Linked DNA regions of Homo sapiens. Changing the gene in region 2 together with the main gene of any one other region gives a genetic interaction. Each region holds a gene or a part of one and is shown on either strand. Other genes may lie near its edges.

Region 1 (3,820 bases), on a different chromosome or scaffold from region 2:
TCCTAAAATTATCATTTAGTAGAACATCTCATAACACCACAGCTCAAATAACCAATGAGTTTTAGCAATAATGTCCTAAAATGATCATTTAATAGAACATCCTCTAACACAACAGCTCAAATAATCAATATGTTAGATTAAAAAAAGGCTCTCTAGAGCTTTATAGAGAAATCTTCTAGAACAGTGGAAAGAAGAAAGGTTAATGGGTTAAGAGCATGAGTTTTGGTTTCAGACAAACCCAGGTTTCTGTCCTGGTACCACCTCATATTAGTTGGTAACCTTGGGCAAGTTACTAGCCATCTTGAGTCCTCATCTTTATAATAAATTTTACCTAATAAGGTTGTGTGAGGATTAAATGAGAAACTGCTTTAGTATAAAGTCCCTATGACATGTCCTCGTCTTAGCTAGTATTATTGTTCATTCTTTGTAATTGTGATATTACTGACTACAACCACATTGGAAGATTAAGGGTACAAAAAATGAGTGTTGGTGAAACAATTCCATAATGATGGAGATGGAGTTTTTCTCTAATTTGGCTTGGTCTGTTATAACTATTTAGGATTGTAAAGGTCTCTAAGAGGAGTAACAGGCACATAATCAAGGTGAAGTGGGAAATTATTAAATATAAGAGAAAAAACCTAACTATGGAATATCTACTATATACTCCACATTGCACTAATTAAAAAATTGTGTTTAAGTGGAAAGCTCAACATGTGGAAGCTTGAATAAAAATGATACAGTATTTTCCATCAATAACTCAGGATTAATTATTGCCATGTATATAACATCCCTCAAAGCAGAAGTCTCCAATCTTTTTGGCACCAGGGACCGGTTTCATGGAGGACAATTTTTCCACAGACCAGGGAGTGAGGAGATGGTTTTGGGGTGATACAAGCGCATTACATTTATTAAGCACTTTATTTCTATTATTACACTGTAATATATAATGAAATAATTATACAACTTGCCATAATGTAGAATCATTGGGGGCTCTGAGCTTGTTTTCCTGCAACTTGACAGTCCCATCTGGGGAATGGGAGACAGTGACCGATCATCAGGCGTTAGATTCTCCTAAGGAGCGTGCAACCTAGATCCTTCGCATGCACAGTTCACGATAGGGCTTGTGGTCCTACGAGAATCTAATGCTGCCACTGATCTGACAGGAGACAGAGCTCAGGATATAACGTGAGTGATGGGAAGCGGCTGTAAGTAAATACAGATGAAGCTTCACTCGCTCACCTGCCGCTCACCTCCGGCTGTGTGGCCCAGTTCCTAAAGGGCCACGGACTGGTACCTGTCAGTTATTCTACTAGTTCTGAAGCAAGGGGCTCTTCCCTTTGTTCTTGTACTTTCCATTTGGCTATTGCCCACACCTAGATTTGGCACTAATGCCAACAATAGCCATATATCTGCTGTCATCACCGTAACCATACAGAAGCCCAAGCCAGAACTGTGTCAGCAGAGTTGGCAGTAGTCATAGAAGGTTCTGGCTATGTAGGAATTAGGAAGAACAGAGTGAAAGAAAAGTGATCCAGGAAACAGGTGGTGACGACTGTTAAGAGAATCCATGATTTCAGTGGAAAGAGCATATAAGATTGTCCTTAAAATCCTCATAGCCTGATTGGACCCTCAACTTGGTAGTGCTGATTTTAGAAAATACTTGTTTTTACTAAGGCATGCAGAGATGGAATCTTAGGCATTAAAAAGGGAATAGCAGGAATAGGACAGTAAAGCAAAGGAGTAAGAAACAGAAAAGAATATCAGAATATCTGAAACAAATTGAAATTACAATAAATAATACTTTTTAACACTAAAGGAGACTAATGCAATACATAAATACAAAAAGAATACGACTGATAAAGTTATTACAAGATTCATCCTTATTACAACAGTACTGTTAAAGAGGCAACAAAAACACACTCAGGTCAAAATCAAATACAGAAATCCCCATTTAGAGTACTCTTAGGACCCCCATTCCCCCCAACACTTGTGCAGTAAACTCAAAAAGGAGATTAAGATACATTTTTTAAATTCTCCAAAAGATGTCAGATTAGCAACTGCTTCTCTACCTTGGGCCTAGAAAATTATTAATTTGGATCTATAACAAAATTGAAAGATTCTTTAAATCATGTGCTAAAATTGAAAACTAATATTACAAAACCAGAGAAAAAGAAAAGGACAGGTTGGATACAAGTGAGCTGATACAGTAACTTTTCAAGATGAGACATGGAAAACAGTGCATTTCCCTCTAAAATTGTATTTACAGATCAGAAATTTCATAAGAGAAATGTGATCATGGAATAACTTACCTGCGGGACCACATTCTGTACATATGTTGGTGGATGCTGTTGCTTTTGCTGAACAGCACTTTCTATTGCTACTTTAGCTACAGTGCTTGGATCTGCTCCTGCTGGCACAGCAACCATTGTTGCGCTGCAGCCAGCATTGTTGGGGTCACTGATTGTAACAATTCTAACTCCTACTTTATTTGGAATTCCTGCGACTGTTTCCCTATCAGTATCCTCTGCTGGCCTCTTTACAGTTTTGCATTCTGCTGTGCCATTTGTAGACCGAACGTCAGATGATAGGGCAGGAGAATGGGATACTTTTGATCCTGAGTCGGGAACTGCTATGATTTGATGTCCCTGTATAACAGAGGTTGTAGAATGTGGTGAGACAACTACACTTGGGCGTTGCTGAGGCACATCTGAATTCAAACTTGAAGCTAGAGGTCCATTAAGCAAATCAGTACCACTAAATTGCTGTGTTGCCGCATTTGAAGCCTCCTGTATACTGCTCACAGATGAACCACCCAAAGTTAATACAGGTCCATTAGAAATTCTTTCTAGTTGATCACCTTTGGCAGTATCTTGCTGAGTGATATCTAAAGTCCCTTGTGGTTCCATTGGAGATATCTCACCATTTCCTACATGATTGGAAGTTTTATGATTTGGAATGTTTTTGCTTAAATGAGAACCATCTCCTTTATCAAAATCACAGATTCCATTAACTAGCGGTTTTCTCAAATCACTTTTGATATCTTGCATGTCTATTTGTTCTGAGTTCTGTTTCCCAGATGCTCCATTCTCACCTAATTCCAATGATGGCCCATTACTGATTAGTGAGCACTGATTAGTCTCACTTTGAATTTTCCCTGAGTTTGAAGGAGGTAGACTTGAGTCACTGTACTTTCTCCCATTTAAAAGACTTCCCACATGCATTTCATTTTCCTTTGTATCCCCATTGCTGGTGTTTGTGGCTCCTCGTCGGCAGGACGGGTTCTCCATGACTTCAATTTTACGTTCATGAACATGTAAACCTGTTGCTTCCTTTGCTTCCTCCTCCTTTTGGCAAATTATTTTATCACCTTTGAATGGGGGAGTAGCAGTAGTACATGATGATTGTCCAGCAGGAGATGCTTGAGTGGCTGGAAGCGTTTGTACTGGAAGTCCAACTCCTGTCTGCGTTCCGCTCATGGTAATTCCTGCTGGAGCAATGAGCTGAGTTGCATTTCCCTGACTCACAGTTGCAGGTGCAAAACTCGTATTTGGCACAACTGTTATGGTTACCTGGTTGCCAGAAGTCCCTTGGAAAATGGTTGCTGGGCTATTTGAGATCAGTGGACCTGGCAATATTTGTAAGTTCGAAATGGGCACAGTTTGTACTCCCCCTGAGGGTGGCATTGCACTTGGGACCAACTGAACATTTTGCTGCCCAACCAATAGCTGCTGAGCTGGAGTTTGCCCCTGCACTCCAAAACCTGCGGCTTGGTTACTGGCCACCTGATAGACCACCTGAGGGCTAGGAGCTCTTGCATTAT
Region 2 (3,728 bases):
TGTAAACAATACTTTACCTTGCTAAAACCCAGTTCCAGCATAAGTCTGTCTGCCACAAACTCAATGTATTGCTTCATTAGAGTGCAATTCATCCCAATGAGCTTCACAGGCAAGGCCTCAGTGAGGAACTCCTAGGAACCAAAATACAGCTTCTGAATACAACTAAAGCACAGGCATTTTCTAGCAAGCTTGAGTGACCCATTTCATCACCCACTTTACCTGTTCTATCCGAACAGCATTGATAATTATTTCTCTTACTCTCTCCTCCGATGGTTTGTGTACCAGGTGTTTGAACATCAGGCAAGCAAAATCACAGTGTAAACCCTAGAAAAAAAAGTTCAAGATCACTAAAGCCAGAAGACTTCTGTCATTAACATGGAATATGAAATTACTTTGTCCTTTTCTGCATTCTCCTTATCCAACATGCTCAGCCATACTGAGAGCACTTGAACTCTCAAAGGGAAGATGACTTCAACTACTGACTTCTCTGCTGATGTCACTACCAAGGCAAGCTCAGTCCCATTCAAGACCCTCAAAGTTGCCACCTAGATGAAGACAGGCAAGGTGTATTTCTTGCTCTGCTGTGTGTTGGCAAAGGAGGAGTCAGAGCTTCACTCAGTGATCTTTCTACAGCCATGAGTGCTAATTTTGCCACTACTCCCAGCAGGAAAGGCAAAGCTCAGTAATAAGGCTAGTTTTTAGATGCTCAGGAAATTTGTATGCAATTTCAAGTAAATCAAGTTTGCAAGTTACTGCATTAAACATCAAGCTTCACAGCTTATCTCCCAATCCAGTAAGGAAGGCCCTCCTACAAGGTAACCATATTTGATTTGCCCACTGGGCTCCAAGTAAGATGGAGTTCATGCTCCTGGCTTTTCAAATGTGACTTAATCAAAGACATACACTAGACCAAAATGTATACTCATTTCATTGAAATGCTTATTAATATTGAAGTAGAGGGGCAATTTCTAGATCAAACAGGAGAAACATAATGGCTACTATGAACATTCTTTTTCGGGGGGACTGTCACCCAGGCTGGAGTGCAGTGGTGTGATCTTGACTCACTGCAACCTCCACCTCCCAGGTTCAGGCGATTCTCCTACCTCAGCCTCTCAAGTAGCTGGGACAATAGGCACGTCCACCATACCCGGCTAATTTTTTGTATTTTTAGTAGAGATGGGGTTTCACCGTGTTAGCCAGGATGGTCTCAATCTCCTGACCTCATGATCCACCCGCCTCGGCCTACCAAAGTGCTGGGATTACAGGCATGAGCCACCGCTCCTGGCTCTACTATGAACATTTTTACGGAAAAAGGGATAACATATTAATACCAGGCAAAAATAATAAAACATCCCTTAAAATCCCAATCCCATCAATAACTTGTAGTTTTGGCTGGGCATGGTGGCTCATGCCTATAATCCCAGCACTCTGGGAGGCCGAGGCGGGTGGATCACCTGATCACCTGAGGTCAGGAGTTCAACCCCAGTCTGGCAAACATGGTGAAACCCCGTCTGTATAAAAAGACGAAAATTAGCTGGGCATGGTGGCAGGCACCTACAATCCCAGCTACTTGGGAGGCTGAGGCGGGAGAATCACTTGAACCTAGGAGGCAGAGGTTGCAGTGAGCCAAGATCACGCCATTGCACTCCAGCCTGGAACGACAGAGCAAGATTCCGTCACCTCAAAAAACAAAGAACTTGTAGTTTTATGCATTCAAAGCCTATAGGGGAATACATATGTACAAATGTATTACAATATATTGAGAATGCAAGTAAAACAGTTTCAGTAAATGAAAGTATTTCCTTCTTTTGTCAAGTATGTGTATGGTTGAACTCACACATTAAATGTGGATATATGCCATCTAGCATCTCAGGTCCCCGTCAGTGAACACAAGAGCATGCCCGAGTTGTGTTTGGGGTTTAGGTCACCCTATTATTTGACTTAGACTCACCTCATCTCTGCTAATAAGTTCATTAGAAAATGTGAGGCCAGGCATCAGTCCTCGTTTCTTGAGCCAGAATATCGACGCAAAAGAACCGGAAAAGAAAATGCCTTCCACTGCAGCAAAGGCTACAACACGTTCACCTATTTAGGAGTTAACACCAACATGATTCTAGTGAGTTGGTATTCAAGGGCCAAAAATCCAGTAACATTACTTGGAAAATGAAGCTCAGGTTTAAGTAGGGGCAAGGGTCTCCTTACCATAGGTAGCCTCTTTGTCCCCAATCCAGCGCAAGGCCCAGTCTGCCTTCTTCTTGACACAAGGCATCGTTTCAATGGCATTGAAGAGAAATTCCCTAGTAGGCACATACGGTATCAGCAATTGAAGCATTACAGTAAAAGACCTCCGATTACCAACTGCTAGATAAGAGCTCTGGGACAAAGGCCAAATTCAAGTATTTGCCAATCCTCTTCCTAAAGGAAGAACTCACACCGAAATGTTTTATTTTTACTGGTCAGTTTTTCCCTCCAGTGTTCTTTTAAAAACCTCAACACTTGATTTACATTAATACAAGTTTGGGTATTCTGTAGTTCATATTGAGCTTCAGGGTCTACAGACAGTAAAACATAGTCCAGTACAGCAGGGACATTTGTTGCCTTTAAAATTATTTCAAGTCCAGATCATTGTTCAATTTGAAGAATCATAGAATTTAAATTTGAAGAACCATAAAATCCTAACTGCTGTGCTATTATCAGACTATGATTAGGTGCATTATTTGGCCTCAGTTGCCACACCTATATCATAAAATAATTAAACCAATAAACTAAGATTGCTTCCTACTAGGACTCTGTGCTACACTGTCGATCCCAGGTCAGGAAAGCAAATCCATGGGTACTACAGTTAACTGGATCTCCCTTACCACCCTCCTCTGCCTCCCTTTATTCTGGTGCCCACCTTGAGAGGCTACTCATTTCCCAGACTGTTCCTACCCAGATGACTTTGTGTTCTGAAGCCAAGGGCACCAGACATTGGGCAGCTTTTTTTTTTTTTTTTTTTTTTTTTTTTTTAAAGAGATGAGGGTCTCACTCTGTTGCCCAGGCTAGAGTGCAGCGAGATGATCACAGCTCACGGTAAAACCAAACTCCAGGGCTCAAGCCATCCTTCTGCCTCAGCCTGCCAAGTAGCTGGGACTACTAGCTCAGACTACCATGCCCAGCTGTCGTTCATTCTTTCCATCTCACTGTCCCTCTCTCTGAGACCTGGGTCTGCCTCTCCCTTGTTTTTGAGGCTTCCCCAGCAGACCTTCCTGTTCCCCTTCTGGGCATTTGCCCCCGATCGTACCCCTAATCTTTGCCTTCTTTTCTCAATTTCCACCTATAAACATGTTCAAATCTCTTTACTCCCAATGTTTCCTCAGTCCTTTCAAGTTACCACTTTTCCTCTTCATGTACTTCAAAGTCTACAACGGCTACTTTAGGTTGCAGCTTCACCACTTCCACTCCATACAAGGTTCTGGTCCCCAAAGCTGACCTTTGTTTTTTTTGCTTGGTTTTGCTTTTTGAGACGGAGTCTTGCTCTGTCACCCAGGCTGGAGCGCAAGCTCCGCCTCCCGGGTTCACGCCATTCTCCTGTCTCAGCCTCCCAAGCAGCTGGGACTACAGGCGCCCGCCACCACTTTTTTTATTTTTAGTAGAGACGGGGTTTCACCGTGTTAGCCAGGATGGTCTCGATCTCCTGACCTCATTGTCCGCCCGCTTCAGCCTCCCAAAGTGCTGGGATTACAGGC

What was found. Genes that interact genetically often act in the same process or in processes that back each other up.
Region 1: changes in RRM2 (region 2) and ARID2 together harm fitness more than expected from each alone (negative genetic interaction), as found in Homo sapiens cells (one large-scale study listed by BioGRID).

What each region holds. Positions count from the first base shown.
Region 1 is NC_000012.12:45,851,386-45,855,205, reverse strand, and holds part of ARID2 (AT-rich interactive domain-containing protein 2), read right to left. Parts: coding exon 2,310-3,820; intron 1,027-2,309; coding exon of another isoform or gene 969-1,026; intron 1-968. UniProt on the Homo sapiens protein: Involved in transcriptional activation and repression of select genes by chromatin remodeling (alteration of DNA-nucleosome topology). Required for the stability of the SWI/SNF chromatin remodeling complex SWI/SNF-B (PBAF).
Region 2 is NC_000002.12:10,125,444-10,129,171, reverse strand, and holds part of RRM2 (ribonucleoside-diphosphate reductase subunit M2), read right to left. Parts: intron 2,298-3,728; coding exon 2,203-2,297; intron 2,086-2,202; coding exon 1,952-2,085; intron 325-1,951; coding exon 220-324; intron 132-219; coding exon 18-131; intron 1-17. UniProt on the Homo sapiens protein: Provides the precursors necessary for DNA synthesis. Catalyzes the biosynthesis of deoxyribonucleotides from the corresponding ribonucleotides. Inhibits Wnt signaling.